Linked DNA regions of Homo sapiens: region 2 is linked to region 1. The links come from fine-mapping of genetic effects on gene expression. A gene starts in region 1. The other region holds a variant in brackets. All regions are shown on one strand. Distances are between the middles of the regions. Region 1 holds the start of MMP1 (matrix metallopeptidase 1). Region 2 has its middle 31 kb from the start of MMP13.

Region 1 (4,397 bases):
TGCTTTCCTGAGTTAACCTATTAACTCACCCTTGTTTCCCAGGCCTCAGTGGAGCTAGGCTTGTCACGTCTTCACAGTGACTAGATTCCCTCACAGTCGAGTATATCTGCCACTCCTTGACTTTTAAAACATAGTCTATGTTCACCCTCTAATATGAAGAGCCCCTTTCACTATTTTCTTTGTCTGTGCTGGAGTCACTTCAGTGGCAAGTGTTCTTTGGTCTCTGCCGCACCCTCCCTCTGATGCCTCTGAGAAGAGGATTTCCTTTTCGTGAGAATGTCTTCCCATTCTTCTTACCCTCTTGAACTCACATGTTATGCCACTTAGATGAGGAAATTGTAGTTAAATAATTAGAAAGGATATGACTTATCTCAAATCAATCCAAGATATACTGAAGTATTGTTTATGAGTAAGATATCAGTCTTGACGCAGAAAGAAAACAGGAATCCATAAGGGGAGGAAAGTGTTGAAAAGCAAACCTGATACAGTGGGAAAGGTGGGAGACACCATAAGGTGCTGAAGTGATAAAACAGGCCAGTGTTTCTCCACTGTATGTTTTCAATAAATGCTTCCAAGGAAGGAGAGTGGGGCATGAGTAGGGGAGCTACAGAGATAAACCAACTTTTCTTACCAGGAATGCTACAGATAGCACTGGTGACACCGGTCACCAGTACCCAAGACAATTTAATGTGGAACATAAGTACAGGAATACACATCTTTCATTACAGAGCCATGTATTTATTTTAATGGGCAGGAGATGCTAAATAAGATCTTTTGAATGGAGGAATGCATAAATATATGAATGAATGCATACATGAAAGAATAAATAAATGCTGCCTAGCACCAAGGAGCGAAGATAGACTCATATCAAGGGAAACAAGTATGATTAAAAATAAGACCCCAGAGTCACGCTCAGTCTCTTTCCAGCCTTTTCATCATCCGGTACATTCAGACAAGTTTCAGGGAAGGATCCTATTTGTCCCATGATAATGATGGGCAAGGGGTGGGGAGTTATCTCATACTCCGCCTGTGGATGAGGGGTCTTCTCAGGTAAGGCTCTTAAATCCTAGGCCTGAGTAAATTTTTTCAAATTTTATTTTAGACAGGGTCCCTCTCTGTTGCCTAGGCTGGAGTGCAGCGGCACAATCACAGCTCAATGCAGCCTCAACCTCCCAGGCCCAAGTGATCCTCCCACCTCAGCCTCTTCAGTGACTAGGACTACAGGTGCATGACTCCATGCTTGGCTAACTTTAAAAAATGTTTGTTTGTTTGTTTGTTTTTTACAGAGATGGGGTCTCACCATGTTGCCCAGGCTGATCTTGAACTCCTGGGCTCAAGTGATTCCCCTGCCTCGGCCTCCTGAAATTCTGGGATTATAGGCTTGAGCCACCATGCCTGGCTCTGAGTAAAGATTAAGGGAAGCCATGGTGCTATCGCAATAGGGTACCAGGCAGCTTAACAAAGGCAGAAGGGAACCTCAGAGAACCCCGAAGAGCCACCGTAAAGTGAGTGCTGGGGGAGCTGAACTTCAGTCAGTACAGGTGCCGAACAGCCATCAGGTGCGCAGTGTTAGTAATTCCACCCTCTGCCCTGGGAGCAAGGTGTGTGGAGAAACCTGTAGCACTTTATGACCATCAGAACCAGTCTTTTTCAAAAAGACCATGGAGTACTCTTTGACCTGTGTATATAACAAGAACCTTTCTCAAATAGGAAAGAAATGAATTGGAGAAAACCACTGTTTACATGGCAGAGTGTGTCTCCTTCGCACACATCTTGTTTGAAGTTAATCATGACATTGCAACACCAAGTGATTCCAAATAATCTGCTAGGAGTCACCATTTCTAATGATTGCCTAGTCTATTCATAGCTAATCAAGAGGATGTTATAAAGCATGAGTCAGACAGCCTCTGGCTTTCTGGAAGGGCAAGGACTCTATATATACAGAGGGAGCTTCCTAGCTGGGATATTGGAGCAGCAAGAGGCTGGGAAGCCATCACTTACCTTGCACTGAGAAAGAAGACAAAGGCCAGTATGCACAGCTTTCCTCCACTGCTGCTGCTGCTGTTCTGGGGTGTGGTGTCTCACAGCTTCCCAGCGACTCTAGAAACACAAGAGCAAGATGTGGACTTAGTCCAGGTAAATGCTGCATTGCATGTGACAATAATGTAAATTTTTAGTTTGTATTTTTCTGCAGTAATGTAATAGAGTTTTTTAAGGATAGGTTTCTTATAAAGAGATTTTTTTTTTTTTTGCTAGAAACAGCACCCTCCACCCAAAATGTATCTAGCCATGCATACGCTCTCTTTTTCCAGTTGGAGGTGAGAGTGAACTAAAGGAACAACATCCAAACTTGTCTCCACAAATTGTAGACTTGTAACAGTATGCAAATCTTGCTCTACAAAAATTGCTCTACTATGAAGTTCTTACTTCACAATAACTAATAGTAGGGACATTTCTACTCTGAAATTTCATTTCTCACCAAAAATAAGGATAAAAGCAACTGCGAAATCTAAACACAAGGTTTAAAAGCAGTTCTCTGTTTTGGCTAAAACTTAATGCCATCAATTTTTAGAATAATGAGAAAGATTTCCCATGCAGTGTTTCGATAATTTTCTTTTGTCAGAAATACCTGGAAAAATACTACAACCTGAAGAATGATGGGAGGCAAGTTGAAAAGCGGAGAAATAGTGGCCCAGTGGTTGAAAAATTGAAGCAAATGCAGGAATTCTTTGGGCTGAAAGTGACTGGGAAACCAGATGCTGAAACCCTGAAGGTGATGAAGCAGCCCAGATGTGGAGTGCCTGATGTGGCTCAGTTTGTCCTCACTGAGGGGAACCCTCGCTGGGAGCAAACACATCTGACCTACAGGTAGGCAGACTGAGGGCCAGAGTGAGAGAGCTATTTCCCATGACAGTGGTAAGAAGTCATGTCCAATGTGTCTCTATTTTGTTTCATTCTAAGGATTGAAAATTACACGCCAGATTTGCCAAGAGCAGATGTGGACCATGCCATTGAGAAAGCCTTCCAACTCTGGAGTAATGTCACACCTCTGACATTCACCAAGGTCTCTGAGGGTCAAGCAGACATCATGATATCTTTTGTCAGGGGAGGTAAGTTCTTCTTATAGCACCTTAACCTCACCTTGCCCCTAGATCTCGTAGCTTTGCAACTGGAATTGATTGTTTAAGATGAATGTTGATTTTATGGGCTCGAAGAGGGAAACTGCATCACAGTTGATGGAAGTCTGTTGGCCTCTTAACAAAGCTAATGCTTGCCCTTCTGGCTTAGCTTACATAAGAACCACAAGGAATCTTTGTTGAATTGTTTCTTTCAGATCATCGGGACAACTCTCCTTTTGATGGACCTGGAGGAAATCTTGCTCATGCTTTTCAACCAGGCCCAGGTATTGGAGGGGATGCTCATTTTGATGAAGATGAAAGGTGGACCAACAATTTCAGAGGTAAGCCAATCAAATTTGCCTCTCTCAATTCTCCCACCCCTTCATGTTTCATTGTAATATTGGTTGATTTAGTTGAAAGAATGCATTCATAGAAGTATATATTTTTCTATTACCACTCAGAAAATTAGTGATACACTTAGAAAAGTGAAAGAGCGGTCTTTTCTGCTAGCTAACAACATCTTAGCAGTGACAACTAGGCCACTCTAAAATTTTTATTAAGAAAATTGTTGAAAACTTTGATGTTTTAATTGTGGGCATCAACATTGAAACTTTTTCATTAGAAGAAAACAGTGAAATTTAACAGCGGTCATAAACTTATGTGGAAATTAAAGAAAAGGAAGGCTTTTTGTGTTTTCCAAAATTTCCAGCAGTCAACATTTATCAGTTTTGTAAATAAGAAAAATATTAAATATTAGGCTGGGCGCAGTGGCTCATGCCTGTAATCCCAGCACTTTGGGAGGCCAAGGCAGGCAGATCACAACGTCAGGAGTTTGACACCAGCCTGACCAATATGGTGAAACCCTGTCTCTTCTAAAAATATAAAAATTAGACAGGCATGGTGGCACACGTCTGTAATCTCAGCTACTCAGGAGGCTGAGGCAGGAGAACCGCCTGAACCCAGGAGGCAGAGGTTGCAGTGAGCCAAGATCATGCCACTGCCCTCCAGCCTGGGTGACAGAGCAAGACTCCGTCTCAAGAAAGAAAAAAAGAAAAAGAAAAATATTAAATGTTAATAGAACATTTTGCTTCTGTGTGAAATAGTACGTGTCATTTAATCATTGATAATATTGATTAATCTGTGGTGCGCTTTCAGTCAGCTGAGTTTGTCTTTTAATTGTATCAATGTAATCATAGAGTTTAGGTTTCAACATGTCTCTTCGTTATTAATAAATGCATGCCTTCTGCCTTCGGAAAAAAGATATACATGCATATATTT
Region 2 (4,397 bases), 130 kb before region 1:
GCCTTCTAAACACAGCACTTAACTCTTCTATTTTGGTTTTAATTCCATTTTGTATCTTTTGGGGCTCTTTGAATGCAAGTAGTAGAACTGAATTCTAGCTAAGGATGCTGGGGAGTTCACAGAATTGAAAGTAAAGCTCAACTCCTATATATCAGGAAGGACAGGATCCAACAGAGTCCTGATATATTGGAGCAGGAACCCAGACTTCCTCTGGCACTCCACTGAGATGATTCTGCTCTCCTGCTTCCATCTTATACTAGTCTACCCAAGAGGGAAACTCCAGGAAGAGAGAGCTGTGTTCTCTTGGCTGAAGGCCATCAGCCACTCTTGGTGGGGCAGTATAGGGCTGACTAGACTTACAGCCCATAGCACAATGACCCTGGGGGACAAGGAAGGGAAAGGTCCTCAGAACAGAAGTTGGGTGCTTTTACTAAAAGACAGAGAATATTCTGCTGGCAAACAAAGCAAAACAGATTTGCAGTACATACCCTTCATATTTTATGATTATTTGCAGAATTGTCTTTTTCTCCACCTTAGTGGAGGCAAGTAAAACATTTTCCCCTTGAGAGAAGGATCCATTCTTTACTTTTCTTTGATTCCTCAATAATTACAGTCTTATTACTAATGGCTAACATTTGTGGAACACACACAACGCGCCATGCACTATGCTGAGTGTGTTATGTCTGTATCATCTGATCTTCTCAACAGACAGATATAGTAATTCTATTATTAAGCTCACTTTATAGGAGAAAAAACCATGGCTTGAAGAGGTTAAGAGTTTTCTTTGAAACACAGCCAGTAAGAAATAGAATCAGGGTGTGGACTTTTGTGTGATCCCAAAGTTCATGTTCTTAACCACTCTGATGTACTGACTCCACAGTATATGAGATGACTGATATATATTTCTAATAAGAGTGTTTTCCTTGCTTGTTCAAAAACTCTTTTAATACTTCTTGTAGTCCTGCACATATCTACAACTTAACAGATTTAGCGAAGACTCAGAGAAAAGCTAAGGAGAAGTAGCAAAATAGCAGAGAAATCACTGAGGAAAGAAAGCCTGAAAGAAAATTATGATCCTCAGTGTGAAAAACCCCAAAGTACATGGTCAAGTGAACCCCACTGACCATGGACAAAGAGACATCCAGATTGTTGAAAATAAATGAGACTGCCTGGGTGCAGTGGCTCACGCCTGTAATCCCAGCACTTTGGGAGACCAAAGCGGGCAGATTACCTGAGGCCAGGAGTTCAAGACCAACTTGGGCAACAGGGTGAAACTCTGTCTCTACTGAAAATACAAAATTTAGCCAGGTGTAGTTGTACGTGCCTGTAATCCCAGCTATTTGGGAGGCTGAGGCACGAGAATCACTTGAACCTGGGAGGCGGAGGGTGCAGTGAGTGGAGATTGGGCAGCTGCACTCCAGCCTGGGAAACAGAGCAAGACTCTGTCTCAAATAAATAAATAAAAATAAAATAAAATAAAATAAAAGAGACTGCCTATGAGGACCTTTTGTAGACTGAGAGAACATGGTTATTTTTACTCTAACACGTAGAACAGATCAAAATGTAAGTAAAACTAACAAGTTTTAAATAAAGTTATAGCTCACATGAAGGTTAAGGCTCTCTCAGGCCGCCACTACTTTTGCCGGTTGAAGTTAATGGAGCTCTCCACCACCTTGATCCTGCTGAGGGGCCTGGAGGCAATTTGAGCTTGCTTCACTTCCTCAATCTTCATATTCTTAGAATGTGACTTTCCGCCTCTAGCCGCCAGAGAAGTAAAACTGTCAGGATTTTTAGGCTACTGCTGGACGTGAGCACTGCAAGGACAAATTTGCTTCAAGGAGATCTCATGTGAGTCACTTGTGTTCCTAGAATGCAGGCCTCAGGAGGGACAAAAGACAGCATGGGCAAAACTGAGCTGAAATGAATGGCATCTGAAGGCTTTTGTGGCTCAGGTGGCAATGCTCTGTGCACTGACTTTACAACAAAGAATGATGGTTGTTCCCCTTTCTGGGTCCCATCCAGGGGATCTCAGCTGAGGGCGTATCCCATGGCAGGGTTACCCACATTTGGAAAAGACGACACTTGAGGGATGGGAGTGGGTTACATGGAAATTTG[T/C]GGCTTCCTCCACACTGTGACTCATTTAACCCACGTTCTGACCATAACTTCCATCTGCCTTCAGGCTCTTTGGATAATAGGGAAATAAAATCTTCATTCCTTCCTTTTCATTTTCTGCAGCACTTTTTAGCAGCTTTTGCTGATAAACACACACTGAGACATGCTAATTCTAACTCCCAGTTTGCTCGAGATGTTATTTCACATCTGCTTCAAAGCTGCTTTGTTAACCTCTCGAGCATCTCTGTCTTTTTATCTCCTCTGCCTGTGATCTAATTAGATCATAAGTCTTTGAGACCTGGATGGATCTTTTCATTCTCCAGTATACCTGAAGTTACATCTCACATGTTTACAAGATACGTAGGAGTTCATGATTGACCAAAAGCAAACAGAAACTGTTCCTCCATCCCTATGCAGTGTGCGAGTATCTGGGCTGGGTTTGAACAAGAAAGAATCGCCTTCTAGGTAGAAAGAACCAATCAATCAGATAAGAAATGCATAAAGTTTTTCAGTACAAATTTATATAGATGACTCAAAACACATGAAAAAAAGGAAATATGGAATGTTAAAATATTGTTGTTTTCAAGAAGTTGTTTTTCATCAGTTCATTTTATTTAGAACATTATCTACATGGGGTCAAAATATCATTTTCTCTTACTCTATACTTAGGACAGATCTATTGTTTTCCTTTATTACTAATCAAAAATAATTCCAAATTAGTTCCCCATTAGACAAAAGTGCAAACATACACCAGAGGCCAAAGTCACCTAGTAGTCTTAATCATTTTTTCAGGAAAGAGAAAAAAGGATCTAGTAACTTCCTCCTTATTGAACAACATGTCACTCCCTTGTTTAAAACCCATCAATGGCTGGGGTCAGTGGCTAATGCCGGTAATCCCAGCACTTTGGGAGGCCAAGGCGAGTGGATCACCTGAGGTCAGGAGTTCGAGACCAGCCTGGCCAACATGGTGAAACCCCGTCTCTACTAAAAATACAAAATTAGCCGGGCATGGTGACCCACGCCTGTAGTGCCAGCTACTCGGGAGGTTGAGACAGGAGAACTGCTTGAACCTGACAGGCAGAGGTTGCAGTGAGCCGAGATCGCACCACTGCATGCCAGCCTGGGCAGGACAGAGTAAGACTCCATCTCAAAATAAATAAGTAAAATAAAACCCATCAATGGTTCTACTTGGCTTTCAGAATTCAATTGAGACTCTTCAGAATGGCTTATAAACATCCACCTGTCCTGATGCCATGCACCCCATCTGCCTCTCACTCTGTGGCCCCGCATTCTCCTCTCCCCCACCTCCATACCTCCCCACCCCATTGCAACCTCAGCTTCAGTCATTCTTTCAGTTCCTTGAAGATGTGATGCTCTCTATCCTTTCTGGCCTTAGTATAGGACATTCTTCCCATCCCAGCTAACTCCCTCTTCAACCTTTAAGTCTCATTTTAAATGTCACTTCATCTCAGAAGTATTCCCTGGCTCCAGGTTTGAGTTAGGGGCATGGCCTCCCCCAACCCTTTTTTTTTTTTGGCCTTAAAATTGCCTATTATCTTTTCTGTATTCTCACTGGAAACTCAGTGTATGGTGGGGATCATGAAAAGTATATTCATATATGTGTATTTGTACATATCTGTGTAAGCTTAATGTATACATACATGTATATATAATAAAATGAGTAGGAGAGAGGTAGAGAGATTTGTCTCTCTTCTCATGATCTAGTGTCCTGGAGTTAGGTATTTTTGAGTGCTGGGCACAGGGAAACCCCGGGTTACCTGGAAAGTGGAAGTTCATGGTGAGGATGCTTGTAAATATGAGGAAGATCGGTGGAAGCTCTGCAGGCTCACAGCCATGCCATCCTTGGAGCAAGGCAAGGACCCCCAGACTGGGCCCCATACTTTATAGAGTGTCTTACACATTAAAAAAAAACACTTTTTAAATTTGGTATCATAAGAAGGTTTTTGAAATTTTGCTCCCCCTTTGAGTGAATGGCATTATGGGAGAAGGAGGCACAAGCTGCATTGGCCCACAGAATCAGTACAGACAAGGCTGAGAGTGCGGCAATATGTGTACATGGATGGTGGGGTTGGGGGGGGATCAAGTTTAAAATTGTCTGCCTCAGATCACATGAAGTGGGCATCTATGCAGATGAGGTCACCCAGATATCTTTGCTCCCTTGCTCCTCCCTGCTGGAGTCATGTAGTTTGGGCAGGTGCTTAGAACCACCTGAAAATCTTATGTCAGAAAAGCGAGGCATTGGGGAAGGTCATCTATGCACTATA

The links.
Region 2: its variant is fine-mapped to the expression of MMP1 in whole blood (TOPMed, PIP above 0.99).

What each region holds. Positions count from the first base shown.
Region 1 is chr11:102,795,727-102,800,123 of GRCh38, reverse strand. MMP1 (matrix metallopeptidase 1) reads left to right here and starts at 1,964. Exons shown (of 10, transcript NM_002421.4): 1 at 1,964-2,136; 2 at 2,624-2,868; 3 at 2,962-3,110; 4 at 3,335-3,460. The coding sequence starts at 2,032. It also overlaps the pseudogene WTAPP1.
Region 2 is chr11:102,922,629-102,927,025 of GRCh38, reverse strand. No RefSeq gene overlaps it. Among named protein-coding and RNA genes, the nearest start is that of MMP13, 31 kb to the left of the region's middle. The variant T/C (reference allele first, on the strand shown) is at 2,116.